Regions from separate parts of the Homo sapiens genome. Here regions 1, 2 and 4 are each linked to region 3. Evidence: fine-mapped expression QTL. A gene starts in region 3. Each other region holds a variant in brackets. All regions are shown on one strand. Distances are from middle to middle. Region 1 overlaps PGM5 (phosphoglucomutase 5). Region 2 overlaps PGM5 (phosphoglucomutase 5). Region 3 holds the start of PGM5 (phosphoglucomutase 5). Region 4 overlaps PGM5 (phosphoglucomutase 5).

Evidence for each region. PIP is the estimated chance that this variant, and not a neighbour inherited with it, causes the effect.
Region 1: its variant is fine-mapped to the expression of PGM5 in whole blood (TOPMed, PIP above 0.99).
Region 2: its variant is fine-mapped to the expression of PGM5 in cerebellar hemisphere (GTEx, PIP above 0.99).
Region 4: its variant is fine-mapped to the expression of PGM5 in tibial artery (GTEx, PIP above 0.99).

The regions. Positions count from the first base shown.
Region 1 is chr9:68,383,396-68,391,505 of GRCh38, forward strand. It overlaps PGM5 (phosphoglucomutase 5), which reads left to right. Exons shown (of 11, transcript NM_021965.4): 3 at 1,003-1,149; 4 at 4,068-4,193. Among named protein-coding and RNA genes, the nearest start is that of PGM5-AS1, 30 kb to the left of the region's middle. The variant T/A (reference allele first, on the strand shown) is at 3,598.
Region 2 is chr9:68,489,300-68,497,409 of GRCh38, forward strand. The region is part of intron 9 of PGM5 (phosphoglucomutase 5); the gene reads left to right. Among named protein-coding and RNA genes, the nearest start is that of TMEM252, 48 kb to the right of the region's middle. The variant G/A (reference allele first, on the strand shown) is at 3,435.
Region 3 is chr9:68,352,078-68,360,187 of GRCh38, forward strand. It overlaps PGM5 (phosphoglucomutase 5), which reads left to right and starts at 4,534. Exons shown (of 11, transcript NM_021965.4): 1 at 4,534-5,311. The coding sequence starts at 5,051. It overlaps PGM5-AS1 (PGM5 antisense RNA 1), which reads right to left and starts at 5,789. Exons shown (of 3, transcript NR_121192.1): 1 at 5,646-5,789; 2 at 4,213-4,269; 3 at 3,087-3,528.
Region 4 is chr9:68,442,363-68,450,472 of GRCh38, forward strand. All of the region lies in intron 6 of PGM5 (phosphoglucomutase 5), which reads left to right. Among named protein-coding and RNA genes, the nearest start is that of PGM5-AS1, 89 kb to the left of the region's middle. The variant G/A (reference allele first, on the strand shown) is at 4,680.

The DNA of each region.
Region 1 (8,110 bases), 31 kb after region 3:
AATCGATTGCATTTTCTACTAACTCTTCAAAATTTGGTGTGCATTTACAATTGCAGCACACCTCAACTTGACTAGCCACATTTTAAGTGCTCAACAGCTAAATGTGACAAGTAACTATTGTATTGGACAATGCAGTTCTAAGGATTGAGATATTTTAAAAATCAAGAAACAATTTTTGTTCAGTAGAAAGTTACAGTATAGTTGACAAGTAAGATTCATACAGAAAGCTATCTATACATCTAGCGATCATTTATACTTTAGATCTTTCAATCTACTTATTTGTTTCTCAACCTTGTTGCAAAAAAAAAAAAAATCTGAAATGGCTTGCATTAAGATATACAAGGTAAAAAAAAAAAAAAAAAAAAAGCAAAACCCCAAAAGGTGAACAAGTATTGATTTCATGTTCAATTTATTTAAAGTCTAATACTACTTGTCAATTTGGTCTTCCGAGGAAATGCATCACATATTTTTAGTTGAGCTTCATTTTGGAAGTGACTAGAGATTGTGAGTTGGGGAAAATAATTAACTTACCCTGCTAAGCTCACACATCAATTAGGTAGCAGAGCTGGGAATAGAAAGCATAGTCTCCTCTTCTAGATGCACTGGGGAAGCTGCATGTAAATCTGGAATCCCTCACTTCTGTCAAATGCATATCCTGTTTGTGTCTCATAACCTGAATAAAGCTGATTACGTAACCAGGTTTCCCTGGCAGGTGTGAAACTATTTTTAGGAAAGATGTGTCATTGCTTAGAAGTGGATTAAAACAAACAAACAAACATATGGGTTGTTAGTCTACATAGAACAGGTGAGGCTGATCAAATTTCCCCCATAGTGGATGAGTACAGTATAAGAAATATCAAGGCTAATTGAACTGTGAACCATTGATCATTGTTTAGAGAACAAATGAATCTTTTTCTGCCTGGTGGAGGAGGATGGTAACATTTCACTGCTTGAAACTCACGAGACTTTCAAAAACATGTATTTTTGGTGTTCACATTTTAGGTCCTGCACCCGATGTTGTCTCAGACAAAATCTACCAAATCAGCAAAACGATTGAGGAATATGCTATATGTCCTGATCTCCGAATCGACCTATCTCGACTAGGAAGACAAGAATTTGACCTAGAAAACAAATTCAAACCATTCAGAGGTAACAGAGATTTTATTTTGAAGAAGTCAGAGTAACTATGTGGATGGGGCTGACTGGTTTCTGTAGGGAAGTAAACTCATGAAAATTATTGCATTGTTAATCTCAGGGGTGACTCGATAAATGTGTGTAAACTTAATATGGTGTAGAGAGAAGACATGAGAGCAGCCAAGATATTCAGAACTGGAAACTTTCAAAAACCACTTCCCAAACTCGATATCATTTTCAACATAGGAAAAGTTTTATGGTTGACTTCATTATAGCATTCCAAAAATAGGCTGTGAATTGCCAAAACTTGTCTAAGCAATTAAGGTGAAGATGCTGGAATGCCTTAGTTAAGAAGAAACCTAACAAGTCAATGGGTTATTAAATTTCTCATGAAAGGTAGGAGTTTCTTTTCCAAGCCATAACCAAGCTTGGAATAATTATGCATCAGCTTATTGAATGCATAATTATTGATCACCTGCCCTATACCAAGCACCGTGTTAGGAGATTTTACAAAGGAATTCAGTAACTATCAAATATATTTAGGCAAGTGATTCAAAAATTAAAGAACCAAAATGAGATTGTCAAAAATATTATCTTATATTGTAAAGCAAATATAACTTCTACAGTATTCAGAAGATAGCTTTTTGTTTTATAGATTAATTTTAGACCATATGACAACAACATTAATAACATGTATGTATACATTTTCCCCCTGTATTTTATCATATTGCTTTTTCCTAGAAGGCATAGAATAGCAATAGATCTAACATGTTTTACTTTTTTAGTGCTTCTATAAGCTTGAATGCAGTTTGTGTTAAGATGGTATCCTCATTTTAGAAGTAATTTAACTTAGCCCAAAAGAGGAAATACCTGGTTTGTGTCCATGTGATATTTTAGGGATAGAGAAAAGATTAAAATGGATTGTGTGGGGGGTCACAGTATTTGCCCAATGTTACCAAATCTTTCTTGAGAAGTTTTGAGTCAGTTGTTTGCTTAGGTAATGAGCAGAAATTTACAGAGAGCCATGATACTCACTGGAAGCAACAGTGCCTGCTTTTGCTAATCTAGCTGGGAGAATGCATAGGCATATGTGTGCACATGCATGGGATGGCTGGACAATTAAAGGCAAGGGGTACATTATATTAAGCAAAATGATTTCAATATGCTGATTACATATGGTTGGAAGGACTAGGCTTATTTTTGGCATCTTCACAATTTTTATAGTTGTCCGAGAGACCCGAATCTTCGTGGGCTCTCATTCAGGCTCATTGCTGCAGCCACATTGCTAGTTGAATGAGTTTTCTAAAAATGTTACTGATACCAGGAGATAGGTAGAGAGATTCCCTGGCTTCCAAGAATTTGGAGATAATCGTTTGGGATAATTTATGTGCTGTATTCTTGCTGGTTCAAGTGTTGAGCAAAGCTTGAGTTAATTAGGAACAAATAATTCCTTTGCATTTCACTTTAAAGTGTCAAGAGCATGAACTATATGATGTGAACTTTCAATTTTTACTGACTTCTTGTTCCCTCGTTTTTCACATTTGTTTGGTACTGTGTGTTACCTATTGTAAATACCAAATGTATTTAGGCAAGTGGTTCAAGAATTGAAGAGCCAGAATGAAATTGTCAAAAACATTATCCTATAATGTAGAGTGAGTAAAACTTCCAAAGTACTCAGGGCATAACCTTTTGTCTTACAGATTAATTTTTTTATGGTGGTAAAATATACATAACAAAATTTACCATTTTAACCATTGTTAGGTGTACACTTTATACAGGTTAATTTTTAATTACTTCATAGATTATTATGCTCCTCATGTAAAAAGATAATTTAAAAGTATCCATGTTACAAATATAATTATATTTGAATGAACACATAAATTACATTGACTTAAGTGTAAGAAAAAATATTTTTAGATATGTATTTGATCAGATGAAGGAATAATATTATATGGCATATTAAGATCTCATCCATTAAATATCACACCTGGATTTACTAAAAATTATTGAAAGTGGGTTGGTAATATCTTCAGTGCAAGTTTAAAAGTATTTCAGGGTTTCAAAGTAGTATGTATTTGAAAAATCTGAAAACAATATACGTAAGTTTCAAAATTTAGCTATGAATTTAAAAAAGCAGGGCTCCTGGACAAATTTTAGCACCTAAAGAATTGATTTACTACTTCTTGGAAAAGTACTTTCTGAGCATTAATTATACACTGATTGACAAGTATGAAAAATGTATTCTGAGCTTTTTGGTATGTCACATAAATGAATAAAACTTTTTGGATTATTGGTTACTGGGTGGTGCTAGATACTGGAAAGCATTTGTGTTTAATGAGAACTTCTAGATATTTGCCATTCATTTGGAAATTGGGTGCTAGATTGGGCATGAATGAGATTTCACGCAAACCCAGGAATATATTCATCACCAATTCTGCACTCGAATCTGGTAGGCACAATGGC[T/A]TTTGGAAAATAGGGGTCACTACTGAGGTCACTTGCTGATTTGTTTCATACCAGCTGAGTCAGTCTTTGGCCAGCCCCCACAAGAAAGGCAACTGGATATGCCAAAATGCCTCTAAACATTGAGATGTGTGCTGTGTGCATTTTTTTGGGAGGGAAAGTGGGAGCAGGAGTAACAGGGCACATTTTTATCTTAATTTATTCTTGTGGTTGATATTTTCCTTGCAAAGAAGAATTTATAACTTGGTATCATTTATACCCATTGAGCACCTGAAAAGCTTGTAGTATCTTGATTGTGCCCTGATTTGTGATTTTTGTCAACAAATGGGCACTTCGCTTCCCACATCATGTGCAGGGATATGATGGGCTTGTGACCAGAATTTCATGCTCTTAAGGTAGTGATTCTTTTTATGCTTCCAAGTATCTTTCATGGGTACAGTCAATGACATTTTCCTTTGTTTTTCTATCTTTAGTGGAGATAGTGGACCCAGTGGATATCTATCTTAACCTCCTTCGGACCATCTTTGACTTTCATGCCATCAAGGGTTTGCTGACTGGACCCAGCCAACTGAAGATTCGCATTGACGCAATGCACGGAGGTAAGCTTGTGATTTTCTCCAAATCAGTGGGCAGGAAATATTGAGACCTGTACACCTGTTGGGTTTCAGAGGTTAAGAGGAAAGTTGGATTCATAGATATTCACACAACATGTGTATGTTCAGATATTTGGAATGCTCTGGAAAACTTCAGGACCCTTATTTCTGTCTTTGGATGTAAATGAAAACAAAAGTTGAACAAATGAGTTTGAGGCTATGCATGTTCAAGTGTGGAGTATAGTAAAACTGTTATTTATTTGATCATATGCATGGCATAGTTTAAACAGTCAAATAAATAGTTCAAGATTTATTGTGAAAACAATCTGTACCCAACTCCTATCTTCCCCCAATTTGTTACCTTCCAGAGTTAAATTTTTCCATTTTTTCAGCTGTTTCTTTTTTGTATTTATCTCCCTATCATTAAATATTATGAATATACAGACCCTTGTTGGTTTTTCAGTTTTGAGCATTACTGAATTCATACTACAGGAACTGGAGCTGCAGCTCTTTTTCACCCTCTCCACCCACCACCCACCTCTCCACCCACCCTTTCCACCCACCAGTTAGGGAATCCTAGCATGCTTCCCTAATTATATCACCAGTTTGGTAAGATCATTATCTAGTGTTTACATTACCACAACACTGCTGAGCCATGCAATATGCTATAATTATATTTCCTTTACAGTACAACTTTTTGATTTCCTTGGAAACAGCAATTATCTTGTTTTCTCATTGCTTGCTTTTAATCAAGTATGTTTACCACTCTTAATCCTCAAGCTCTCCGCTAGTGTCTAAATCTTCCTTCACTTCATTTTCCTGGAGACTTTGATCTGCCCCACTCTGCCCTGGTTGCTCTCTGAGCATGCTGTCATCATGAAATCTCCCTTTATCACCATGGTAGTAATTCTTTTTACACATCTCTTATGTTAAATGTCCTGTTCCCTGGTTTCTTTGTCTGACACCTTGATTTACTCGTACATTTTGGAGGAACACATTCTCCAGGAACTCAGTGAGAGAAAGCTCATGGTAGGTAAATATTTTGTGTATTGTATATCTGAAAAGGCCTTTTATTCTACACTTGCCCTTGATTAATATTTGACTGATATGGAAATCTAAGTTGGATATTATTTTTCTTCAGAAGTTTGAGGGCATTGCTCTACTGTGTTATAGCTATTATATTAAACTTGAGAAATCCAGTGCTATTTTGATTTTTAATCCATTGTCTTTCCTTTTTCTTCTCTGGAAGCTTTTAGGACCTTTGACTTATCTTCAGTGTTCCTCTGTTTTTCAATAATGGATCTTAGTGTGGGACTCTATCTTTATTATATTGGACACCTGATGGACCCTTTCAGTCTGAACACTTGTGTCCTTTAATTCTGGAAAAGTTTTTGAATTACTATTTAGTAACCATTCTGGTTATTTTTACTACTGAATTGATCCTTTAATTATTCTATTTCCCCTTCTCCTCCCCAGTTTTTCATCTCTTTATTTTGTTCTACTTTCTGGGAAATTTCCTTGACTTTATCTTCCAGTCCTTTAGTTCTACCATTATATTTTTAATTTCCCAAAACTTTTGTTTGTATTTTCCAAAGATTCTCTCTTGTAAAAACGCATCCTAGTTATGTTTCATGGATACCATATCTTTTTAAACTTAGGTTTACTGAGGTATAATTTATACACAGTAAAACTCACTCCTGGTAGGTATACAGTTTGATAAGATTTGACCAACATATACAGTCATGTAACCACTATCACAATCAAGACTGAATATTTCCATCACCCCAAAGAGCTTTTGGCAGCCCTTTGTAGTCAAACCTCTCCCCTTATCCCCAGCCCCTGGCAACCACTCATCTGCTTTCTGCCCCCATAGTTTTGCATTTTCCAGAAAGTTATGTAAATGGAAGCATACAATATGTCACCTTTTGCTTCAAGCTTCTTTCACTCAGCATAATAATTTCGATATACATTCCTGGTGTTGCATGTATCAGTAGTTGTTCCTTTTACTGCTGAGTACAATTTTATTGTGTTGTCGATATACCACAATTTGTTTATCCATTAACTGGTTAATGAAAATTAGATTTCTTTTTCTTCTAGTTGTTGGCTATTATAAAGAAAGATACTGTGAACATTCGTGAACAAGTCTGTATGTTTTCATTTGTCTTGGGTAAACAGCTAGGAATGGGATTGCTGAGTCATATGATACGTGTATGTTTACCTTTATAAGAAACGGCCAAATCATTTTCCAAAATGCCTGTTCCATTTGCACCACTGGCAATGCATGAGGGCTCCAGTTTACCTGTATCTTCACCAATACTTGGTACTGTCAGTCTTTTCCATTTTAGCCATTCTACTCTATCTTGTTAATCTCTATTAGGATATTACTGATATATTTTAAAAAGTTTTCTTTTCCCTGTATAATTTTTGTTTCCTCCAGGTTTCTCTTTACTTTTTGTTTATTTTCACCTCATCTCAAATACATTCCTCAAAATTTTGGTGATCCTTGGCTTTCTGGCATATTTAAGAATGAGGCACTAAAAATCTGCTGGGAGCTCTGAGCCTGCTATGGGTCTTCTCCATGGGCCTTACTCTAAGGGCTTCTGGCTAGGCTGTTCTGTTCTTTCTTGTTGGGCTGATCATATTCCTCAGGAAAAGAACTTTCAGGTTCTTGCCTTAGCATTATCTGGCCTACAGGGAAGACAGCTTTGCTTTTTTTCCAAATAGTATGAGCAATGTTTCTGGGTTTCAGCCTCATTGCCTGGTTTATATTGTATGTCCATCTTTGAATCAATTGCTCTGGCTAGAAGATGGAGGACGCTGATTGCGCAGACATAGGTCACCTCCTTAGCCTTGGGGAGGTGGGATTTAGCCATACCCAGACCCCATGAACTGAGATGGGGAAGAGAGTTTTTCTCCAAACAAATCCCAAATGCTGTATCCAGAGGAAGAGGAAATGTGTGCTGGGCAGGCACAATCAAGAGATGTTCACTATTGGAGGATTGTGTGTTGTATTGGTGGAAAATAAGTGGAAAGCAATATCTTTCAGATATTTCAGCTAGGAGGATTACATGCTGTTCCACAGATGTGCCTTATGTTCTACCTCAGGCTCTGTTCCCTTGCTCATAATGTTCCTTCGATTTAGATGGGCTTCCCACTCTAAACCCAAACACTTGCCAACTTTATATTATTCCGTCAAGTTCCACCAGAAATGCTGCTTCTTCCTTGAAGCCTTATGTGTGGTTATTGCTTCTCTGAAGCCATTGGATATAATTATTTCATCAATGTGCATTGTTTAGTCTTACCACTGCAGTCATTCATTTGCAGCTTTGACTCATCCCACTACTAGATTACAAGCCCAGGAATGTAGAAACTATGTGCTTTGCATCCCTTCAATATGATCCCTTCATTTCCTAGCAGAGCAGCTCCATATTGCATACTCCATAATGTTCATTGAACTGGAAAATACTATTCCTTGGCATGTATTTTGGTAAAATGTGCTTGTTTTTATATGCTTCAGTGGTTTATAGTGTTTAATTATATACTTGGCAGAGTCCAAATGATTGCAGAGACAAAGAACATTGCTAGAGCCCTTTAATGCTTTTGCATATATTCAGCTAAAACTTTTAATACATGAAAAGCAACAGACAATGAATCATTATTATGTAGCTGATTTCTTTCTGGCAACCTTTTAGAAAAATTTCAGGTGAAAAAATTTATGGAACTAGATGACTGAATACATCTTCTGTATTCCTACCACAGTAACTGGCACATAGTAGATGCTCAATAAATAGTAGTTCAAGCAAATATTGTTCTATATTGTATCTTTAAAACGATTGTAAATTTATGTTTTTCTTCTGGGTTATTAAATGGTGTTTCCTGTACTATTCAGAACAAAATACTCTGGGGAGAAGGTTCTGCAAATA
Region 2 (8,110 bases), 140 kb after region 3:
TGGTGGGTATCAATCCAGAACCATGACCTATATTTTGAAAACTGGATTTGAAATGAGAAACCTTGACACTTCAGGAGCAAAATTTAAGCAACTGAGTCTCTTTTTATGACTCATCCTAATCCTATGTTGTTGTTGTTGTTGTTGTTGTTTTCTTTTTTCTTTTTCTTTTCTTTTTTTTTTTTTTTAGACAGAGTCTGGCTCTGTCGCCCAGGCTGGAGTGCAGTGGTGTGATCTTGGCTCACTGTGACCTCTGCTCCCGGGTTCAAGCGATTCTTGTGCCTCAGCCTCCTGAGTAGCTGGGGCTACAGGCGTGCACCACCACGCCCAGCTAATTTTTTTATACCCTTAGTAGAGACAGGGTTTTACCATGTTGGCCAGTCTGATCTCAAACTCCTGACCTCAAGTGATCCGCCCACCTCGGCCTCCCAAACCAACTCCTATATTTCTAACAAGCTCAAAAATCATGAAACTCTTCCAGTGCTGAAGTCATTTGCAAGTCACAGTTCAGCTGATGGTTAAAAAGCTGATGTAAATAAATGCATACCAGTTAGGTGATGTGGAAAACCAAATCCAATTTGATTATGTCAGGCTAACTCTGAGCTGATTAATACCTCTTCAAGTTAAGCAGGCTATGTGGAAACATTTTGATGTTGTCCTTAACCTGGAAAAAAAGAACCGTTTGAATTTAGTTCAGAGAAAAAGCACACTTTGAAGACTGATTTTGAAGTCAGTTTTCTTTTAGCGTTGTTATTTTAATTTGCAAGAAGGTGTCTGCTCTTTTTAATTTCAGTGTTTAGAAATAGTAAATTGGCAATCTCAAAGTCACATTTTATTTCCAGCATGTGGTGTTTTAATATGTACCTCGATGCAACAAACCCCTGGTCAGCAAATATGAAGCAGCTCACTAAGGTGTTGTCCCCAGCACTGTATAAAAGCAACTGAATCATATCAACTGGAGAATCTGAAGCTTTAAGATTGAGTTCTTCTCTCTTCAGAGTTAGCTAGTCAAATTTCAGCTTCAACTTTTTGTTTTTGTTTTTTGTTGTTGTTTTGTTTTTTGTTTTTTGAGACGGAGTCTCGCTCTGTCACCAGGCTGGAGTGCAGTGGCATGATCTTGGCTCACTGCAACACTGCAACCTCCACCTCCTGGGTTCAAGAGATTCTCCTGCCTCAGCCCCCCGAGTAGCTGGGATTACAGGCATGCGCCACCATACCCGGCTAATTTTTGTATTTTTAGTAAAGACAGGGTTTCACCATGTTGGTCAGGCTAGTCTCAAACTCCTGACCTCAGGTGATCTGCTTGCCTCGGGCTCCCAAAGTGCTGGGACTACAGGCGTGAGCCACTGCGCCTGACCTCAACTTCAACTTTGATCACATTCTAATCAATGAACTAATTGAGAGACTATAATTGTAACAATTTATCCTTGTCCCTTTTGCTGGAGTGCCATTTGCTGGAGTGTGGTTTGCGCATCTGGAAGTAGAGCCTCAGAAATCATTTTAGTCACACTGATTAACCCACCTATAGAATTTAGTTAAATCTGAAAATTAGCATACCCACAAATAGCACTTCTACACTGAGTCACAGAACTGTTTAAGTGAATGGGCTATTATCACATTTAGTTTATTGTGATTCGATGTGGGTTTAAAAAAACCTTTTTCTTTGAAAATTGTGATGTTGAAAAGAATCTCTGCAATAAACATATATTCCTTTCCTAACTTAGTCTAATATGGTGAAGGTTGTTAGAGGCTGATTCATTTACAACTTCATCTATTCAGTGAGTATTTACCAAACACCTACTAGACGCCAGTCAGCTCATTAGCACCGAGGATACAACAGTATTCAGGACAGTTGAGATTCCTGTCTGCTGCTTAAAATCTAGCAGGGAAGATAAATTGATATTAAACTTTAATTACTGTAGAGTTTGTTGAACGGTATTACAGAGGAAGAACTTATTTGGTGTGCATAGCGGGGGAAACTAGACTAGGGCTCTAGAAAGTTCTCCATAGAGAGGTGATATCTAAGTTGTACTCTGAAGAATGGGTAGAAGGCAGCCCAGGTGAAACCATTTTATCAGACTCTTTGCTTTTCTTCAGTCCAATGTGGTTGTTATATGGTTGTTTAGCTCTCCAGATAAAGAGCTAAGGTTTCCTATAGGCATTCTCAATGGGATGCTACGATAACTGTGATTAGGATTCTCAACTTCAGTGCTCACTCTACAACACTGTAGTTGGGGAAAATAAAGACAGTCGGGCTCTGTATTGCACTATGGCTTGTGCTAGGACATTTTGAAAACCATAGGTTTAAAAAAATAATTTCTACTAGCCACTTTTCCTGTGATTTTCCTATTTGTCCTCTGAAGGCCAAACGCATATTCAGTACTTTATAATGACCTGTCAGCTGATTTGAAAATAAAATGGGAAGCTGGGTGCAATGGCTTATGCCTGTAGTCCCAGCTACTTGGGAGGCTGAGACAGGAGGATTGCTTGAGTCCAGGAGTCCAAGATCACCCTGGGCAACACAGCGAGACCTCATCTCAAATTTTTAAAAAAGCGAGAAAGAAAATAGAATGAGGGAGACCCTGTTTCTGGTTAGTCGGGAAGTTCTCATCTCCCTGTTTCTGGTTAACTGGAGTATTGTTATAAAGAATTACCTTCTCCTGGCATAAGTTGATTGCTTTAGAACTATTGTCTAAAGTGTCAGTAGTAAAATTGTCCTAAAATGTGTAGCAAGCGTGTAAGCATTATCGAATGACAACACAGTTACTTTCTATTGGAATACTAATGTCTCTGTGTTGTCGGGTGGATGAGCTTCACCAGGAAATATAAATATAAAAGAGAAAAGCTGCAAATGATCACAGGAACTAAGGGAGGAAGCTATGCCGTTGTCTGGGTAAAGTGTGCCTGAATCCAAAATATCCCAGAACTGGGGTGGATATTGTGTGAACAGGGATCAGCAGTCATTGGCCAAAGAAATGGGGAAATAGAAGGTGCATGATTTTGTTCCATTGTTCCAGTTTTGAGAGTTGGAATTTGGATGAGGAATAGCTTTCAAGTCTTCGCCCTCCAGCAGCCCTCTCATCACCTAGCATGGCTTTTCTAGGTGAGTGCTTTAAAAGAGCGTGTAAGGAGTCACTTGACCTTGATTTCCCCAGATAGTTCTTTGCAATTGTTAGCCCCCAAGAAGGCTGGTTGGTTTTTAAAAGAGGCTGGGTGAGAACTGCTCCCAAGAGCAGGGCAGCTGAGTATGGCTGTGCAGTCAGCACACTGCACAATGGTACCCAGCCTAATGGGGAAGGAGAAGCTGAAGTCCAAGCCAGCCGAAGGAAGGATGGTTTTCTGCAATTTATCCATGCTGGGGGTAGAGGGGGGCACCTGTTTTTAACTCACACAAAAGCACCATATGGAGTAACTGCTGCCTTGCTCAACCACTTTTG[G/A]ACTCATGCTCACAGCTAACTCTATGAATTATTAAACAAAGAAAAATGGGTAATTCTAGGTGGGTTTTTTTAGTGTGTGTGGAAAGATACGTCTGTTCAATCCAAATCTCCTGCTTTCTAGGCTGCATGCCCACTTCTACAAAATATGGTTCAGATGTTACGAAGCAGTATCTTCACCTTGACGCTTTCCAGATAAATCGTTGTGATTTCCTGTGGGAGATAAGATCTGAGTTAGGCTCGCAGAGTCTCTCTCTTCCAAGGCTGTCCTGTCTCCAGGTTCACATGCCTGCTGTGGCCAACTGACTATATATGCGACACTGTACCAGATTGCAGGGCCATATGCTGTTTTCCCCTGGAATTCATCCCAAGTCAGTATTTGACTAGGTCCAATGCTGCCAAATAACTGTTGGTAATGTACAGTTCACCCTTCCCTGCCTGGCTACAACATGTCCTACAGTCTCCAAACTAATATCTGGCAGCTCTGTGTGTATTTAGCAACTTACAGATTTCCCTGTATTGATTTACACAAGGGTTTATTTTTAAAATTAAAAAAATAGTAAAAACCCTAACATTTATTTATCAAACATTTATCAGATACCTACTCTACATAAGGCTCTGTGTCAGCTTTGGGAAAAATACAAAACATAAGATATTGTTCAGATATTTCGCATGAGAAGCAATGTGTGAATATCAGTAGTTGCATATGGTTCAACCTCAGATTGTAAGCCTAGAGTCAGAAGACCTAAATGGAAGTAAATGAAGCTCCTCCATTTACTAAATACGTTACCTTGAGCAAGTGTTTTAACTTCTTTCTTTTCAATAAAAAGAGAGATTGGCAAGAATGACTCTAAGATCCTTCTTTCAGGATGTTAAGATCTGACACTCACAACAACCCAATAAGCTAGGCTGTATTATTTTTCAACTGCTTTTTAGGAAACTAAGGCTTAGAGAGCTTAAGTGACTCAAGACCACCAGCTAAAAAAGTGGCCAAGCCAGCATTCTAGCCTGAGTTTATCCAGTTGCTATTCTTGTATCATTTCCAAACTGACTCTTCATAAACAGCAAATCAAAGAGGGGGCAAATCCAGGGAGAAAAAGAGATGCTACAGTGATAACTGGAAGCACACTGAAGGATTTTTGTGTGGAGATAGCTGCATATGGACAAGGGTTATGAAATCCTTTATCAATCATTCTTCACTGGGACAAAGCTAAGGTGAGCAGAACTCGACTGTCATCATTAAAGCTCACAACCACAGGCACTGAAAAGTAAGGAAAACACTAAGCTGGAACTGAAGTGCTCTTTTGATACCCACACTCCTCCCCACCACATAATTAACATTGTCTTCTAATAAAGGAGAGCATATTTTTCCCTTTTTTGAGTGTGTGGCTATGTGTCATCCTGGATATTCCGGCTACTCTAGCTGCTGTGGCTAGTGAGATATCATGAATTCTTTCACAGTTGCTCCAGGAATTCCTACGAAGACTGTGCTAAAAAAAAAAAATAATAATGTCAGATGGTTCAAGAGGTGGTTCTGCTGCTGACAAGGCCCCAGGGGGAAGCTTTCAGGATTCAGTGGCATGAAGTTGTTTTATTAGCCTCACTGTGTTAACAGCCCTCCTACAGTCCCAGCCCAGTGAGAGCCTATGTATGAAACCTTAAATCCTAAAGGGACCTTCCTTATAAGGGACATGTAGCACAGTCCAGTCACTTGATAGATGAGGCAAGTGACCCAGAAAAAAGAGGTTATTGCAATTAGTTACTGCACATTAGAATCACCCAGAAAGCTTTTAAAATCCTAATTCCCAAGTAACACCCCAAAAGAATTAAATCACAATGTTTGGGGTGAAAGCCAGGCACCACCATTTTTTAAAGACCTCCCACTGATTTCAATATGTAGCATTTTGCAATTAATGAGCTAATGGTTTGCCTAAGGTCATACATCTGGGGACAAGAACCTACCATGGTTCAACTCCATTGTTTTTAGCCAAAACTGGCCCTTGTCTTAAGACATCTTGAGAAATGGTGGAGGAATAAACAGTCAAGCCCTGCCATGATGATGCTATGCCAGGCACTTTCTTAGTTTATCTTTTGCAACCACTCTTCAAGGTAGATACATCAGCTCTAGTTCACCATGAAGAACGTGCATGTGTTTTCATGTAGCCTGTGGATCCTTGCTAAATGCGAAGGCAGGCTCTCTGAGACTGCCTCAGGGGGACTGCAGTGGTGCTCACTTTAGTTGTCGAACGTGCAGTGACATTCATTCAACAAGTGTTTATGGAAGGTCTACAGTGTGCCAGGCATTGTCCTAGGCTATGTGGATAAAATGATGATGAATGAGGTATATAAGGCTCTGTCCTCCCAGAGCTTGTTAGCTAATGAAGAACCCAAAGTCATAACTCAGCAAGTCCAAAATTTTAAGGTTAACACTGCGGTGGAAACTTGTTTTATTCATTTTCACTGAGCCTTGTTTCTTCAAGACTTGTGGCGGCAAAAACACACATAATGAAGTTGTTAGAATATAAATAAGAAACATAAATCAAGACTAGGGAATATATAAGTAAGAGTAGAGTCAAGAACAGAAGAAGAAAAATTTATAGTCATGCAAGTCATGAGGATCCACTTGGGCTGAACCTCAAATTTGGCATTAAGTATCCTGGCAGCCATATCGAAAAGGGAAATGTGGTTAGTTACAAAGTTCTTATTGTCAGAAAGAAAAAGAATACAAGTTCCTTAGGGAAGGAAAGGCTTTCCTAATACTTGGCTCTTGAAGGAATGTCTCAGGCAGAGCTTCATACAGCCTCTAACAATATTTCTACTAGTGACTACAAAAGTGGATTTTATAAGACATAGCTTGTAGCATCCTGCAGTAAAAGTGAGAACATAAAACTAAAGTGCAATTTAATAAATTCATTTATGTTAGGAGTAGGTGGTGAGAGGTAAGTTGATTTGAGCCAAATACAGGTTCAGGTGAACCTATGACTAGAAGCTGGAACACCAGGGAATGGAGGGATTTTATATCCTTATAACAATCTACATAAACATAATTTCTCTCTACTGAGATTTTGATAATTCAAATGGTTATATTTTCTATCTTATGCTGTAGGGATAAAAGGCAAGTATTCTATGTTGTGAATAATGTAATGCCTTATACCAGGGGTCAGCAAACATTTTCTGTAAAGGGCTAGGTAGTAAATATTTTATACCTTGGGGGCTAGATGGTCTCTGCCACAACTATTCATCTCTGCCACTGCAGCACAAAAGCAGCCATAGACAAGATATAAATGAATGGACACGACTGTGCCCCAGTACAACTTGTTTCATAAAAGTAGGTGGCAGGTCAACTTCTTACCTACAGGCTACATAGTGCCAACCCCTAGTATAACCTAAAAAATAAATGCGATTATTGGTATTCTTTCATTGAAATTCAGGAACAATTGGAAACTTTGCAAGTCTTGGTCAGTGGTAACTTTGGCTTCATAGTTTAAATGCTATTGGGTGATGACACATGATGGAAAGAACATGGCTCGTGTCTGGGTTGCAAATTCATTAAGTTCGTTGAAAGAACATGCAGATCCCAAAGCAATCCAATACAGCTATTCACACATAAAAGGGGGCCTCAGCAGACATGGTGCTGGGATTGTTGCAGCACAGAACTAGGCTGGCTCTAAAGAAACCCTTACATTCCATGTGGAGAAGGAGAATTAATGATGTTCCTCACCTGGAATGGTCTTGAAAAGCAACATGGATTCTCAGTTAAGATCTCATGGTTAGTTTCCTAGGAAAGAGGGAAGATGCTGGACCATTTCCAGTAGGCTGATGCATGCTATTCACATCTTTGTCATCTTTCCAAGTGAGAAATCTATTCCAGGCTACCAGACATAGGTTCTAACAATCTTCTAGGCATGTAGCATGTAGTATAGTCAAAGACATTATAATTAACCTCAGGGGAAAACAATAACATTATTTCATTTTTAAAAGGCTTAGTTATGAGCAGATAACACATGTTTATAGTTTGTTATGACCTGAATTCTTAAATTTCCCCTCACTGGCCAAAAATGAATCTGAGAATGTTAATTGTTTAATGGGAGGTACTTCAAAGGGTTGAGTCTGGGGGCTCATCAGAAGAGGTAATCCCAAGTGACTTGGAATCTGCAACAGGTGGGTTAGGACCTCATCCTTAGATATTGCTTTAACCAATTTATGGGTAAGCCATAGTTCTGAGCAGAGTCACGTGCTCACGCGCCCCACGTGTAGTGACAACGGGAATGTAGGCTTAAACATAGGTAACAGCTTCAAAAGAGTTTGTAAAAACAAGGCTGTGAATATCAATATAATTGTGAGACTTTTGGGGATTTATTGTAGGTTTGAACGTAACTTGAAATACAGTGATTTGTAGACAGTCAGTAATTGCTTCACTTGCTCCATTTGGAATTTTGTAACTATTCACTTCTCCAGCAGCATAAGGTGGTTAAGAAGACAGTTTCTGTTCGTTGTAAAAAATTACTCCAGGCTTAAGGAGGACAACTATTGTGTCTTTATATTCATATACCCAGGATTTAGCACAGTGCCTAATCCATAAGGGCCACACTAAAATGTTTGCCCAGTGAATAAATCCTGGATAATATCATCCTGTCTGCAAAGCCAGTATTACAGAGTGATTGGTTGCCAGTAGGGGA
Region 3 (8,110 bases):
GTCTTCATGGTAAGGCCTCTAAATGAATGTTCCAGAAATTCATGTTAAAGGCACGTGTCATATGTGTAACTTGTAAACATTTGTGTACTTGTCTCTGTGTCCTTACACCTCAGGCTTCAACTCTTGTTTTTACCTTTATCAATGACTACCTGTGTGCTGTGTGGCTTTGGACCAATTGCTCACCCCCTCTAAAGCTCAGTTTCTGCATCTGTAAAATGGATATAATGCCATATATACATAGATATAGATATACATACACAAATATATATACACACATATATATGTGTGTATATACATATATATGTAATATACAAACTGAAATATATAGTTATATAAATATTTCAGTTTAAGTTTCAAAAATCACTGGAGGGTATTTTTATAATACCCTTCGGCAATTTTACCTGCTGCCTTTGCACATTCTGGTGAATTTCTAAATGGAAGTCTGATAGAGATTAATCTTTTAATGCATCATAAATAAAAAAGAAAATCACAGAATGATGTAGCTGGAGAGGACCCTGGGGATCTAAAGTGTTTCATGAAAGATTAATGTCCTTGATCTGTTTGTAAGTGTTTTGGAAAAATCTTCCATGGTCAAATAAAACTTGGCAATGTTGGATTAAAGTTAAATAGGTTTTTTTTCCTGCAGAACTTCATAGTCTTTAATATGCTAATGTGTTTTGTGAATCTACAAGGAATGAAGTGTTTCAATACTTATTTTACCCAGATTCTCATTTTGGGACAGGCTGGTCAAACTGAGTCAGCTAGTATATTCTCTAGATGGAGATGATGGCTGATGCCTTTTTGAGAGCAAGAGAGTCCCCAGGGGAAGCAAGGATATATCAGTTGCTCCTATTTCATGCCAAGAATCCTCAGTCTTTAGAGGCTCAGAGAAGGCTGAAAGGCTACTCTAGGCTATCAGGGCTACCATTCATTGTGACCCATGCTACAGAGAAGCTTTGAGCTCAGTGCAAAGGAGTGACCAGCCCTTGAGAATCAGGAAAATTTATTTATTTCTGACCTAGTCCACTGAGGACATACAAGGAATGGGGCAGGGGAATGTCACCAGCTATGGTTACAAGCTAGTCTGATTCTCTTTCATTAAGAAAACTGGTCCCTGTGAGTTTAGATTGGGAAGCACCAGGTTAAAAAAAATTTTTAGGCCAGGAGTGGTGGCCACTGTACTCCAGCGTGGGTGACAGAGTGAGAATCTGTCTTAAAAAAAAAAAAAGTTAATTGATGTCTTCTGTTGAGGACCTCTCAGAACTTTTAATATGAAAGTGTGCATTGTGAAGAATGGGAGTAGAGTGTACAGGAGTTTTAAAAGCTACTTGGTCATGAAACTCTTGCTTTGTGCAGGATTCGAGGGGCACTAACATTCTGAGGAAAATATTTTGGGAAACATTGATCTAATCCAAACTTCTCATTTTACCAGCAAACAACTGTGGGGCCCTCTAAGTTTCCTTTCTCCATCATTGTGACAAATTCATTGGAATTAATTCAATTAAACCTGGGGTCAGCTTTGAAGAGATTTATTTAGCAGGTAAATCTGTTTTGTACATTTTGAGGGAGTTCTGAGTTTCCATAGTCAAAAACCACAGAACAATTTAACCAACCTTTATGGAATATCACCTATGGCCCAAAGACCCTTTAGCTACAGTGATGGTCTACAAAAATATAAACTGTAATTCTTGCAATACAGGAGATTAGTAATAATGGTAAATATAATGATGATGACACCATGAATAGCTAACATTTATTGAATGCCTTTCTATTAGTCAGGCACTTTACTAAGTATTTTAATCCTCCCAACAATTTATGAGGTAGGGATTATAATAATTCCCATTTTATAGTGAGGACACTGAGGTTAGGAAATTATCCTAGCCTAAATGTTAGGTATAAGCATGAATAGAAAGGTGTTATCAGCCTATAAGACATTCCTTTATGAGTGATACAAAGTCCTATATAAATTCAGAGAAAAGACAAATGGTTTTAGAAATCCTTGATCAGTGAGTGTGAAGCACGTGGTGGCCCGGTTACTGTTTGGTTGCCCATCTGTCCTCCCTCTGGGGATCAGCACCCCCTTACTTTGGAAGACTTGTTTTCCTTGTCACTGTAAGGTTCTTTCTGGCTATGTGGTAGGGCACATTGCCTCAAACTAGCCCTGTTCCAGTCTTTGAGAACCTTGAAATTGGAACCAAGGGAAGAGGATTGCCTCTTGAATGGTAATTCTCTAAAATCTAGTCTGAGGTGCTGGTGCCTAATCCCTGGGTCTGTGGAAGGAGCTGGGCTGTGAGAGGGGAGAATGATGTTGATGTCAAGAGAGAGGCAGGTGCTAGGAGCAGAGAGATGGAGGCCTGGAGGGTTTCTGGGCTTCTCTGAGGCTTAGGGTTTGGATCATTGTCTTCGTTACTGGAACAAAGGATTTACCATACCTGCTCTTCTGGGAATGAAACTGTCCTGCTTTGCAAAAAAAAGTGTCATTAGAAAGAGATCTTAAAAACCCCACACCATAGACAGGTGCACAGATCCCTAGAAGTGTTAAAGTTCTGTCTGTTGGATGCTAAGCCAAGACTCTTAAGTATGTTCTAAAGAGAAACTGGTGTGTGTAGGCTGTGCACTCCCAGGGAGATAAAAAGTTAGGAACTTTATGGGTTGGGCTTGGTGGCTCACACCTGTAATCCCAGCACTGTGGGAGGCTAAAGTGGGCAGATTGATTGAGCTGAGGAGTTCGAGACCAGCCTAGGCAACATGGTGAAACCCCATGTCTACAAAAACTACAAAAATTAGCTGGGCGTGGTGGCATGTACCTGTAGGCAGGAGGATCGCTTGAGCCCAAGAGGGAGAGGGTGCAGTGAGCCATGATTGTGCCACTGCACTCCACCTGGGTGACAGGAACTTTATGGGAAATGGGATCTTGGAGACTGAGTAGAGACTAGAGGAAAAAAAAAAACTACCTCCCCGACTGGCCACACTATTCTTTTAAAAAAATGTTAATTGACAAATTAAAATTGTATGTATTTACGGAGGTATGATGTGATGTTATGATATATGTATACATTGTGGAATAATTAAATCCAGAGAATTAATAGATTCATCACCTCAAAACCTATCTTTTTTGTGGTGAGAACATTTGAAATTTATTGTCTTAGCAATTTTGAAATACACAATACTTCATTGTTAACTACAGTCACCATGCTGTGCTGTAGATCTCAACAAAATATATTCCTCCTGTCTCAACTAAAACATTGTACTCTTTGACAACATTTCCCCATTCCTCTCACCCCCTCCAAAAACACCCATTCTTTATGTTGAAGAGAATGGCTAAAAAGTCCCAGCAGGTTTCAACAGACGGCTTCAGTGGTTGTCCCATCACACTTCAATGTTATTAATAAAAAGGGGAGGGGCAATACATAATTCGGACAGGCTGAAAGTACCATTGTAACCACTTTCTTGACTTCACAGAAAAAGTCCTCTTGTTTTCATCTGTAAAATGGGAACTGCATGAATACCATTCTTCTTTTCTTCAGCCTCCAAAGAAAAAACAGATGCAAAGCCTTTAATCAATTGCAAAACAGTATACAATGTGTGTTATTACTCACAGTTGTCTTACTGTGACCAAACACTTTATAAGCCTGCGGCAAGTCAGCCTTACTCTCAGTAAGTGGACAATATTTGGGGAAGGAGAAGCAGCAGGATATTTCAGGACAGTAGCCTTGGTGGGTCCAAAAATTCCTTGAGAGAAATGGGAGATAGAACTTTCTTCCTGCTTTGGGTTTTATCCTGTTAGTCTTTTCTCTCTTCACTCCTATTTTCTATGGAGAATTTCCTGGTTTTGGAGTTTGGGTGCGTTTTATGGAGAGGAGGCAGAAAATCTTTAGCTCCAGCAGAATGAAAGGATACATGCAAAGGAACCTAGCACAGTATCTGGTACCCAGGTCTCCTTTAACTTGGCTTTATTCATTCACTCCTGGTAGGGCATTAATAAGGGATTTAGCCCCCTCCTATTGAAAACGATTAATTCAAGGAAGAGTTCAGACAGTGTGGACAGATACAGTGTAGGAAAGCCTATTTCTAAGGCAGGAGCTGGGTAGGGAGGGTGAGAAGGGCGAGAAGAATAGGGAAATATGTGTCGTCTGTGTTGCTGCTGTTGCAACCACCACAACAAACAAACAAGTGAAAAAAAAAAAAAAAAAAAAAAAGAATTGTCCATACCGGAAAGTGTGCTGTTTTGGAGGAGGCTGGGGAAAGTGTGGATGGCTCGAGTGGGTCCTGTTGGATTGAAGTCTGACAGTGGTGATTCCCTTCAACAAATGGTCGGGGTGGGAGGGTACACACACACACACACACACACACACACACCCCACACGCAGCGCCCAGCCTCCGATTTCAGCGCTGGCAGGAGATAACCATTCTTAGCTCGCCTTTCCAGGGTTATTTTTGGCTGAGGCTGTTCGCTGATGGCAAAAGGTTTCAGCCCCCTCCCAAATCCCTCCCCGTCCTTGTTCTAAAGAGAAACTGGTGTGTGTAGGCTGCGCACTCCCAGGGAGACAGGGAGACGGGCCGGGCGCCGGAGAGGAACCCGGACTCTGCCCAAAGTCTCGCCGCCCGCCGGCTGTTTTCTGGCGGAGGGTGTGCCCCGGAGGGCGGCGATCGCGGGTGAAGGCTGGGGCCAGGCGCGGGTGGAGGCGTCACCGGGGTCGGGCTAGCAGGCCCTGGAATCAGGCTTTTGGGACACCCCGAAAGTGAGTCCAACTTGGGGAGAAACTGAGGGCAGCTCGGGCGGTCTGGCAGCGGAGAAGGTGGGTGGGAGAAAACTTTACAGGAAGGCAGAAGCAATCTCTGCCGAGAGAGTCAGCCGAGCGGCCGCGCGGAGAGGAGGGGCGGGCGGTCCCCAGGCGGGCGGGTGCAGGGCGCAGGGCGCCGACCTGCTGGAGAGGGGGCCCGGGCGCGAGGCGGAGTCCCGGCGCGCAGCCAGGCTGGTGGAGGCCCCCGGCAGGCTGCAGATTCCCTCCGGCTCCGGGAGCCGCAGCAGGACCGGCCAGGAGGCGCCATGGAGGGGAGCCCCATCCCGGTGCTGACAGTGCCCACCGCGCCCTACGAGGACCAGCGGCCGGCCGGCGGCGGGGGTCTGCGGCGACCCACCGGCCTCTTCGAGGGCCAGCGCAACTACCTGCCCAACTTTATCCAGAGCGTGCTGTCGTCCATCGACCTGCGCGACCGTCAGGGCTGCACCATGGTGGTGGGCAGCGACGGCAGGTACTTTAGCAGGACGGCCATCGAGATCGTGGTGCAGATGGCCGCGGCCAACGGGGTGAGTGTCCGGATGCCCCTCGCTTCCCGCCGCGCCGCCGCCATGCCCTCTCCTAGCCCTTGTCCCCCTGCTGCCTCCGGGCCCAGTTGGGAGGCCCCTGCCCGGCCCCGGCTTTGCTACCTCACTCCCGCGTCCTCACCCTCCAGCGCCCCACTCCCGCCGCGCTCGCAGCCTCCCCGGTGCACCCCGGACACTGGGTTCTATTAGTACCCACCGCCCCCAAAAGCCTTGAGGGGTTTCCGTCGTTCCTGGAGCCACTCCGGGCGCCCTGGACTCTTCTCCGACTCTGCGCACATCCCGCACCTGCTCATTTTTCTTTCGGACATTCTCTTACCCGGCCCTGTAGATTCCAAGGCAGCTCCCAGTTTTCCATATTGTTCCCAACGCATTCACTGCCCACAGTCCCCACACAAACTTCTTTCGCAGGCTCACAACATAGTCCCTCTGCCCCGTGCCCTTTTTGCAATAATCTGCCAGTCCCCTAAGTCTTAGCTCTGCCTATTTAACAGTAGTGGTGTCTCAGAACACACACACACACACACACACACACACACACACACACACACACACACACACGATCCCTGACATATTTGGCAAGAGTAGGCCCTGAAGGTTTTTATTATTTTGGTTCTTTAACCCAGTGGAATTACTGAATGATTTATTTAATTAGGGTAGGGATGGAGTGGATCCATTTGTTTGATGCTAAACAGCCTGAGCTCGCAGTTCCCAGGGGGCATATCTCTAAATGGTCTGAAATGAGATTTGCAGTGGTTTTCTTAATGCAATTCCCAACTTCTCTCCAAATGCCTTTTGGCATTTGACAACATTTCATGCCTCTTCCCCTTTCGGTTTTCATCCTTGTTTTCTCTCCCTTCTCCCACGACCTCGGTAGTCTTCTGCAATCCAGATTCTCAGACTTCAGGTTTTTCTCCCTCTGCCCCTTTCCTCTCTGTCCTATAACTAGAAGCACCTTTTGGCATAGACCCATATCCCAGTTTCCTCTTTCCCAGGTCCAGCAGCATCTCAAGGACATCTACAAGAGGGATACCTAATTTCAGGGGTCTCTGAATTATATGTGGGAAACATCGTCTAAAAAAGTAATTTTATCCTTATTCATGCAACCAGACCCACACTCATAGAACTTTTCTTTAAGGAAAGTGTCTTGCAGATGTATAAATGAGTGTTAACATCTTTAAAAGCGAAACTGAACAATTCCCTGGCATTTGAATTCCCTCCTTCCTTCCCAACCCTCTCCTTTTCATTTTCTCATTTATTATTAAAAACATTTTTAAAGGATCTCCATGCTTCATATTTATCTACTATAATTCCTCCTTCTCGGTGTTGCAGGGATGGGGAAAGAGGATTTTTTTAAAAACATAATAAAACGCAATTGGGAGAAACAGGGCCAGTGGTGTTGGGGTGGGTAGTGGAATTGTGATTTTTGACTCCAGTAGACAATGATGCTGGATATATGGGGTTTGATTTATCTCTGGCTCCTCACTTGGGATTGATGAAGTTTGGCTAGAATCAGGGAGTTGAAGAGAGGTTGACAAATGGTCTTTCACTCTTCTCTGACAGGCTGTTCCTGTGGAGTGATGGAGAATAACGAGCCTTGGGAGAGCTATGGGAGCTCTCATACTTCTTCCCGAGCCAATTTTTTAGGGAGTGAGAGAAACATGGCCTGTCCAATACTTGTTGTGGGTCAGGATATTTTTGAAGCTACGGTTGTTGATTTGCATGGGAAAATTATTATGTCTTATTATTTCTTGTCCCACTTTACCATAAGGACTCCTCAGCTTCTTACTTCAATGGGTCTTCTATGACAAACACACTTTATTAACTCTAAGAGTGGAATTTATTTTAACAGATAATTAGCATAGGTCAATATATGCTTAAAATAGGGTCAAATTAAACCTACTAGCTGTTATAAAGGACAGATGACAAATTAAAATCCACATAGAAGCATCGACTCTTAAATAATCTGAAAGTACTACTTCTAAGAGGGGTGGGCATGGGTGAAGGGAATGGTGGACATGTTTCAGAATTTCAAACAGCCAACTTTAACCAATCTTTTCCTCATTTTGTTCACCTTCTTGGGGGCTTATGCTAAAGTGAAGTGAATAGCCATAAGGCTGGCTTCAGGAGAAAGGTGGTCTAAAAGAACTGGATAATTATAAGCAAAATTGGTCTTGAATGATTGAAAATTGATGAGAATGTGCTTGTCTCCTGATTTGGCATCCTGAATTAGACTCAGGAATACTGAACTTGGATCCCAAAGGCTTTGGTCTTTTTTGATATCCTATTGGATACTCATAAGCAGGCTAGAAAAATAGAAAACTAGAATTTATTCTCTTTGAACTGACAAATCTAACCAGTGGGCTGCATTCTCTATATCTGAAAAATCTTGGTTTTGATTGAAAAAGTTAATTTTACAAAGCAATTTTCTTTTTTTAAATTAAATTTCATTTTTTTTGAGACTGGGTCTCACTTTGTTGCCCAGGCTGGAGTGCAATGGCACAGTCTTGGCTCACTGTAGCCTTGACCTCCCCAGATTCAGGTGATCTTCCCACCTCAGCCTCCTGAGTAGCTGGGGCTATAGGTGCATGCCACTATGCACAGCTGATTTTTGTGTTTTTACTACTCATAGGGTTTCTCTGTGTTGCCCAGTCTAGTCTCAAACTCCTGATCTCAAGAGATCTGCCTGCCTTGGCCTCCTAAAGTGTCATGAACCACCATGCCCAGCCTACAAAGCAATGTTCTAGGAAAAACTACAGTTACTCTTTGATTATGTAATTGCTG
Region 4 (8,110 bases), 90 kb after region 3:
CAACCTCCACCTCCCAGGTTCAAGTGATCCTCCTGCCTCAGCAGGAGCCACCACCATGCCCAGCTAATTTTTGTATTTTTAATAGAGATGGGGTTTCACCATGTTGGCCAGGCTGGTCTTGAACTCCTGACCTCAGGTGATCTGTCCACCCTGGCCTCCCAAAGTGCTGGGAGTAATCACACTTTCTAATTAACAGAAAGCAATGTGTTATTAGCAAAGGCAGAGATAATGAAGCAGAATAGAGAGTCCAGAAATACACCTAAATAAATGTGGCTGACTGATTTTTGACAATGGTGCTAAAGCAATTCATATGAGAAGGTATAATCTTTTCAACATATTTAAAGAGTTAAAACAGTTAACCCAATTAAAATTATATAAAATGTTTTAACAGATACTTCACCAGAGAGGATATATGGATGTCAAATAAGAACACGAAAATGTGTTCAACATCATTAACCATTAGAAGATGCAAATAAAACTGTGATGAGATACTGCTACATAACAATTAGAATTGCTAAAATAAAAATTACTGCTAATACCTTAGTGTTGATGAGGATGCATATCATCTAGAGCTGTCATATAGTACTGATGGAAATGCCAAATGGGCCACTCTGGAAAGCAGTTTGTCAATTGCTTATAAAACTAAACAGATGCTTACCATATGACCCTGTACTCCCACTCTTATTCTATAGCTACAGAATTAAAACTGTACACAAATATTTATAGCAGCTCTATTCATAATAGCCCCCAAAATGGAAACAACTCAAAGTCCTTCAACAGGTGAATAATAAACTGTGATATTTCTATACAATGGAATACTACTCAGCAATTAAACAGAAGTACTGATACACACAACTTGGATGCATGTCAAATGATTTTGCTGAATGAAAGGAGCCCAACTCAAAATGTCACATACTGTATCATCCCATTTGTATTATGCTCAAAAAGACAAAATTATGGAGACAAAAACAAAGCAGTAGCTGCCAGGGGCTAGGGGTGGAGGGAGGTGTGTGACTTCATGAGGGAGTTTCTGTGGTTGATGGAAATGTTATGTTTCCTGATTGTTGTGCTAGTTCCATAGATCTACACATGTCAAAATTTATAAAACAGAACACAGCAAAAAGTCAATTTCACTGTAGGTTAATTTAAAACCTTAAAATATATTTCAAAGCTTCCCTCTTAATCCTAATGTGCTGTGCAGCTTGCGTACCACTTCTCTGGAGCAACTACCAATGCTAGACCTCTTTATCAACTCTCCTCCAAAAAGTTAGAACTTATTTTGGAGAATCACAGTAAAGGGCAAGTAACTTGCAGCAGAAGATAGACGGTCATTTCAAAGCAAGAGCAGTAGAGAGTCTGAGAGTCCTTTGTTCTGCCAAGTCAAACAGAAAACATAAATATTTGTATAGCTTTGTAACAAAAGAGCAATATGGGTTTTGGCAGAAAGACCTCTTAATCGCATTTAAGACTTTAAAGTAATGGAGCCCTGCTCCTATTATGTGGAAATTGCATGCAGATGTAGTGTACATCAGGGATCAGGGTCCTGTCTGAGGGAGACAATGTTAAAGGTAAAACCCAGACTGACAAGGAGGGCAATCTGTCTACTTGTGCAGATATGGTGGAGCCCATTTGCTTTTTGGCACTGGATCTTGAGGAGATTGCATGTGCTACTTAGAAGAGTCTCTCTCTTTCTTTCTTTCTTTTTTTTTTTTTTTTGGATCACTTTGCAGTTGTGAGTTCATGACTTTCTATTTTCAGTTGCACAGATAGCCTTTTAGTTCAAGGATGGGGTGTTTTGGGATCAAAGACAGAAATATTGAGCTATTTGGAATAAGTAGAGTGGTGGGCATTGAGGGAGACTGGGATTTCCAGTACTGCCTCATCCCCACCCATCCAACTGCAAGTCTCACATCCTCTCTGCTTCCAAAAGGGAGATATTTGACCCTAACTTCTCTTTCCATAGGATTCAGTCAAATGCTAGTGCATATGGTTATGATATAAGGAAATGGGTCAAGTAGAATTATTGGGGTGCTAGAAGCAAGACCAATTTTAGATTACTTAAAAGGAATGCAATGGAAGGATAAGGAGTAACCCAGAATCAATGAAAAAGCTGGTCTCAAAAATAATAGGAACCTAGGTGGTAGGAATTATGTATGGGCAATCTCTCCAGAGAATTATCTTCCAGATCAAGGAAGAAATGACATACATTTCCCCCATTCTCACTTCACTCAAGATTCAGCATTTTCTTAGTATGAGTTGAGTCGCATGCCCACTCTTTGGCCAGGCAAGAGGAGATCACCTTGAGTGACATACACTGGGGAGGGGAAAAGTTCTACAAAAGTAAACCAGTGGTCTCTTGTCTTCAGCAGGGGTTGGGTATTTGAAAGGCAGAAACAACAGCTTTCAGATCACCATGGTGGGTTATTCTACATTTTAAACTAAACACCCCTGGAGGGTGTACAGATAAGCAAAGAAGGGGTACAGGAAGGAGTGGAAAAGGTGGTGGGTATTATGGCAGAAAGAGCAATAGTTTTGGAACTAGACCTGGACCAGAACTCCCACAGGGATTGGCCTTCAGCTGGCATTACGACCCCAGGGCAAGTCAGTTACTCTGCCTGGAGCTTTGCTTTCTTCATCTAAAGACTGAAGAGGCTGAACTAGCTGTCCCCTAATATCCCTTTTTGTTACAAATCTTAAGAAATATATACTTTGGGTCTAGGGCCATAACTTAATTTCTTAGCTGAGTATAAAACTGTGTTAAACTCAATAGGATTTTTTTTTTAATGCTTATAGCAGTGGTCTTCAAATGTTAGAGTGCGTAAGAATCTTATCAGGATTAGATAGGTGGAAAAAAAAATCCCTTGTAAAATGCAGATTTCAGGGCCCCATCCCCAGAGATTCTGATCCATTCTTTCTGAACAGAACCCAAGAGTCTGCATTTTTAAACAACGTTGTCAGGTAATTCCAATGCAGGTGATCAAAGCTAAAGACCTGCACACCATCTGTTTGATTCCCAGTCCCTAGAAGGAAACCCCATCCATTGGAGCTGCAAGCACTTAGAAAATGTTTAAAGTTGAACAACTGGACATACCCTTTGAAAGCTCCCTCCTAGGCTCCCTAGATAGTGTGAGGATGCTTGGAATACAGCAGACACCAGGGTAGCCAGGGGCTCCACCGCCTGCATATTGGGACACAACGTGGAGATCTTGCATTCTCTCCTTACACTTGCTCACTCACTCTGACTCAAGTGTAGCCATTCAATAAACCCAAAGGGTAGAGAGTCTGCTGTGAGTACCTTGTGAGTTTTCCTTATTGTTCTGATCGTATGAAGACCTTAAATAGAACCTTTTCAAATTCTATGTATTTGGGCTCAGCAGTGCCTGCTTTAGTAAATTTCTGGTTGTAAGAAGTTTAACCTTCAGGCTAAACATTTACACTAAACACCTCTCATTTGGGGAGTTACACTGAAGGGAGTGTTGTCCATTGTTTTCTTACGTGTAGTTATTTGTGCTCTACCATGTATCTGGGGATCTCCAAGTGCCTTTTAAAAGTAATCAGTTTCGCATCAAGGTGTTCCTTACAGACATGTGGTTTACAAATGGTGAAGGAATATTTTTTATGTGTATAAAATGCCTGAGTCTTTCCCTGTCCACTACCTTGTATGATGCTCCATTAAAATGTAGCATGGATGCCAAGAGTTCCTTGGCTTTTTGAGGCAAGATAGAAGAGATTGGTCATTTGGCCCAGTATGTCCTTCCAAATATATCCAGAGGCCTGACCAAATGAAAGTGAATTATAACAAGGGTGAAAGTAATTTAAATAATGTCACAACTTATACTCAGTTACATCCAAGGAAACCAGTTGTGTATTAAAACCAATAAATAGTAATTTAAAAAGTAATAATTCAAGGAGGACATTACCACAATGTTTGAAATAACTATGCATATTATATGGTTTACAATGTGCAACACACTTTCCCATACATTCTCATTTCATACACCCTCTTGTCTTCGTTGCGTCCAACCTTAGGATAGAGAGTGAATAGGGAAACTTGGTCTATAGCCTCTAACAACATGGGCAAGGCCCATTAGGGAGAAGAACTCTTTGTAGAGGACTGATCCCCTATTTCTTTCTGTGTTCTGTTTAAAATGAAATTGTTGTCTCTGTTCAGAAGCCTGATTGGTTGTGTACGTGCTGTGCGTGTCTCTGTGTGTATATGTGTTTAATGGGGAAACGAAGGCTAGGAAAGGAGGGAGATAAATTTATGAAGGATGAAGTCTACAGGTTTTTATTCTTGCTTTATTTTTCACTTTCTCTAATACTGGGGTGGAGAAGCTCTGCATATACTTTGGCTTCATGAAATGTTGACATTCGAGAGAGGAATAAAAGTGTTTATTCTCTAGAGTTAAAAAGAAACTCAACTCATCAAGTGTGTGTTCTGTTCCACTTGGTCTTATAAGTCATTTGCCAGCAAGATGAGCTTTATATCGTCTCTCTGGTAAAACATCCTCCCATCTCCTGATCGGCATTCCTCCACTCTTTTGCTTCATAAATTAGAAGGGAGGATGCCATTGTAATACTTGACCTTATAAGGGGGAAGAGTGGCCCAGCCGTTCCTTAGCTCTGCCCTCCTGTCAGAACTGTATACACTCTGGAGGCCTTTTAAGGGAACGTGGTGC[G/A]TGCAGGGAAAACATCCCAAGGCAGACCATCCATTTTCTTTGCTACTGCAGAGTTGGTGCCTGCAAGCTCTGTGTGACTCTGAAGCATAAATCATAAGGGGTTGCTGGTGCCAAGCCGGAGGGAGGGACATGTCTGAGGATCATGCTCACTGCCAAATGCAGCCGACCTCTTAGTTTTCACTAAAATCCCATCTCACCACTGGCCTTCTGACTTTTAGTGAAAATTTCACAAGTTGCACATCCTGACATTACTTGTACTTGCCTCCCTGTTGTGAATTATAATGATGGCTGCAGAGAAGCAACCACTGCCTCCTTAAGGTTTCAGTTTATCCTTCCTGCGCTGTACCATTCACTTCTGTACAGTGAGGCTCGAGTTTGGAGAGAGAGAGAGAGAGAGCTGGCTTTGAACCACAGGGCTTTTTTGTACTAGCTCTGAGGCCTTGGACAAGTCATATAACCTCTCTGAGTCTCAATATCCTCTATTAAGAATGGGGAGGATAAAGGTGATAACATCCTTTTATAGTGTTTAGCACAATGCCTAACACATAGTAAATGCTGAAATGTTAGCTGTTATTATTATTATTATTACTACTAGAAGAAGGCTATAGTTTTGGTGTTTGCAGCAAGTATTTCCTACAGTTCCACTATTTCAATCCAGCACGCTTTTTATAAACAATTTTTTATAGGCAAAACATATCCAGAAATACCCATAGAGGTCCCTAAGAACATCTTGGCATGATTCAGTGTACAGAGAATGGGTTCTGGAATTGGACAGGACAGGGCCTGACTCCCTGCCCGGCCACTTACCAGTTCATAGCTTTGGACAAACTATTTAATCTCTTGGTAATTCAGTTTTCCAGTTAGTAGTCTGAGGATACTGGTTGTTTAAATACAGGCATTTGGGTTGCCAGGGGCAGAAACAAATTAAATTGGAGCAAAGAAAAAGAAAGGGTTTGTTGCAAACCTATAGAAATTTCACTGAAATAAACTATGGTTTATTTTACAAGATGGGGAAGAGGGAAGAGGAAAAGGGGCTTTGAGGGGAGGAGGGGCTTCTACTTGTAGGCAAATAGGTTGTCTTCTCCAGTAGCTTCTAATCCTAGACTCACTTCCTTCTTTGAAATCCACCTTTTTGAAGTATATTTCCCAGTAAACAAAAGTCTGCAGGAGAGGCTAAAAATCACAGAAATGTGACAGTATGTGTCCTCCAAAGGTATGAACCCTCTGTTCTGGGACAGGTCTAGCAGTAGCAACGCTCTTCCCAGGGCACCCAGGTAGCCGAGTCACCCAGGGAGGGGTTGTTTGGGGAGACACTTAGGGAAGGCTGCGTGTAGCCTCTCTTGAGACCCCTGCACCTTCATGCACAGCCTGTTCCCACTTAGAGGCTTCCACCCAGCACCCAAGAGTCATGCTAATTTCATTAACAAACCTGCATTAACCAGGACCTCTCTTCTCTTCTCAGTTAGCTCAGGGGTTCTCAAACTCTTTTTCTGTGTGCAGCCAAAGTCCACTTGCAGCAGGAGCACCACTTGCTACCTGCAGTGATTTTCAAAGCAGCTGGGGCTCTGTATATTAGAATCTCTTCACTCCTGAGTTTTTGATAATCCTTCTTACGCCCATTGGAATATAGTCCAGAGATCATTGTTCAATCAATAGGCACCCCTCAAGCCCTGTTCATTGCCAGACCCTGAACTGAGTTGATATTCAGAGAAAGACACAGCCCTTGTCCTCCTGAAGCTGCTGGAGATGCATGCAGGGGACAGCATAGTGTGAAAGGTGTTGTGGCAGAAATGCTCTAGGTGCTATGGGACAGCAGATTGTGGGCTGATTGTGTCTCTCTGGGGAACCCCAGGAGGGGCCTCTCATTCTAGACTTCTTCACCCACTTGGGCTACTATAGTAAATTACCATAGACTGAGTGGCTTATAAACAACAGAAATGCATTTCTCACAGTTCTGGAGGCTGGGAAGTCCAAGATCAAGGACCCAGCAGATTCAGTGTGTTGCAAGGGCCTGCTTCCTGGTTCATAGATGGCTGTCTTTTTGCTGTATCCTCATGTGGCAGAAGGGTCGAGGGAGCTCTCTGGAGTCTCTAATGTAAGGGCACTAATCCCATTTATGAGGGCTTCACCTTCATGAACTAATCACCTCCCAAAGCCTACCTCCTAATAATATCACGTTGGGGGTTAAGATTTAACATATGAATTTGGAGTGGACACAGACCTTTAGTCTATAGCCCTGGGGCTCTAGCTTTGCTTCCCAGAAGCTGAGACTGAAAGGACAATTAAGACTCAGCTAGCCGAAGTGAGGGAAGCAGCATCACCAAGCCCTGGAGGGCAAAAAGAATGGCTTGTCTGGGAATTGCAAGCCTTTGGAGTCCCTGGAAAGTAAAATTGAGGAGTATTTCCTCAAGAGAGGAGAGATTCTTTTCCTCAAGGTGAACTTCAGCTATGGGTGCCCTCTGATGGGGACCCCATGGTCAGAGAGCTTTCAACTCACACAGGCACCTTCCCCTACCCAAGGTAAGGATTTCTGCCTGTTAAGTGATAGCTGCATTTATGGAGTGTTTATCATGTGTCGCAACTGCCCCCATCTCTGCCTATGAGCACGTGAAGGCTTGTAGAAAAGCAGTGACTTACCCAAGTCCCCAAAGCTAGTGAAAGGTGGGCATCAGGATTTGAACCCAGGTTTGTCTACCCAAGGAGCCAGAGCTTGTTTCACTCTACTGCACAGCCTCTTTAATCTTAGATGCAGGAACTGAGGATAAGAGAGGATAAATGACTGGCTTACAAGTGTCGCAGAATTAATAGTGTAAGAGTGCAACTTCAAACCCCAGTCTGTCAGATTTTAAATCCAGTGAGATGCTTACAGCTATGGGGGTAGGGTGGGGAGGACAATTGCTTTGCTTACATTTAAGAGAGATGTCCAGGGGAGGCAAGAGTTGGACCTCAGCCTGCTGGGGTTTGACCAGTATAGTCAGCATGCTCACATGGTAGACTCTCATACCAGCACCAATGTTCAATGTCAGTTCAAGTGTGAACCCCTTTTGAGGACCTCTTAAACACTGTATGATACATGAATCAAAATTCAGCTATTAAAATTGTGAATAGAGATATACAATTGCATATGTTAATTGATCATTGTCATTTGTGTACAGTTTGTCTTAACTATTTTAAACTTGCCTAAAAACAAGAATCTCTAGAAATAAAAAATAAAAACAAAAACAAAAACAAAACAAACAAAAAAACCACTGCTTTTAAGTACTGACACCTGGGCTCTAACCAAGACCTGTAACCCAGAATATTCTAGCAAAGAGGCCCAGGAATTCACATTTTTAATTAGCACCCCAGGTGGTTCTTATTATCAAGAAAGTGTAAAAAACTTTAACCTCTTCCGAAGGTGAATGATCAAGTACCTCCAGCTCCCCCAACTC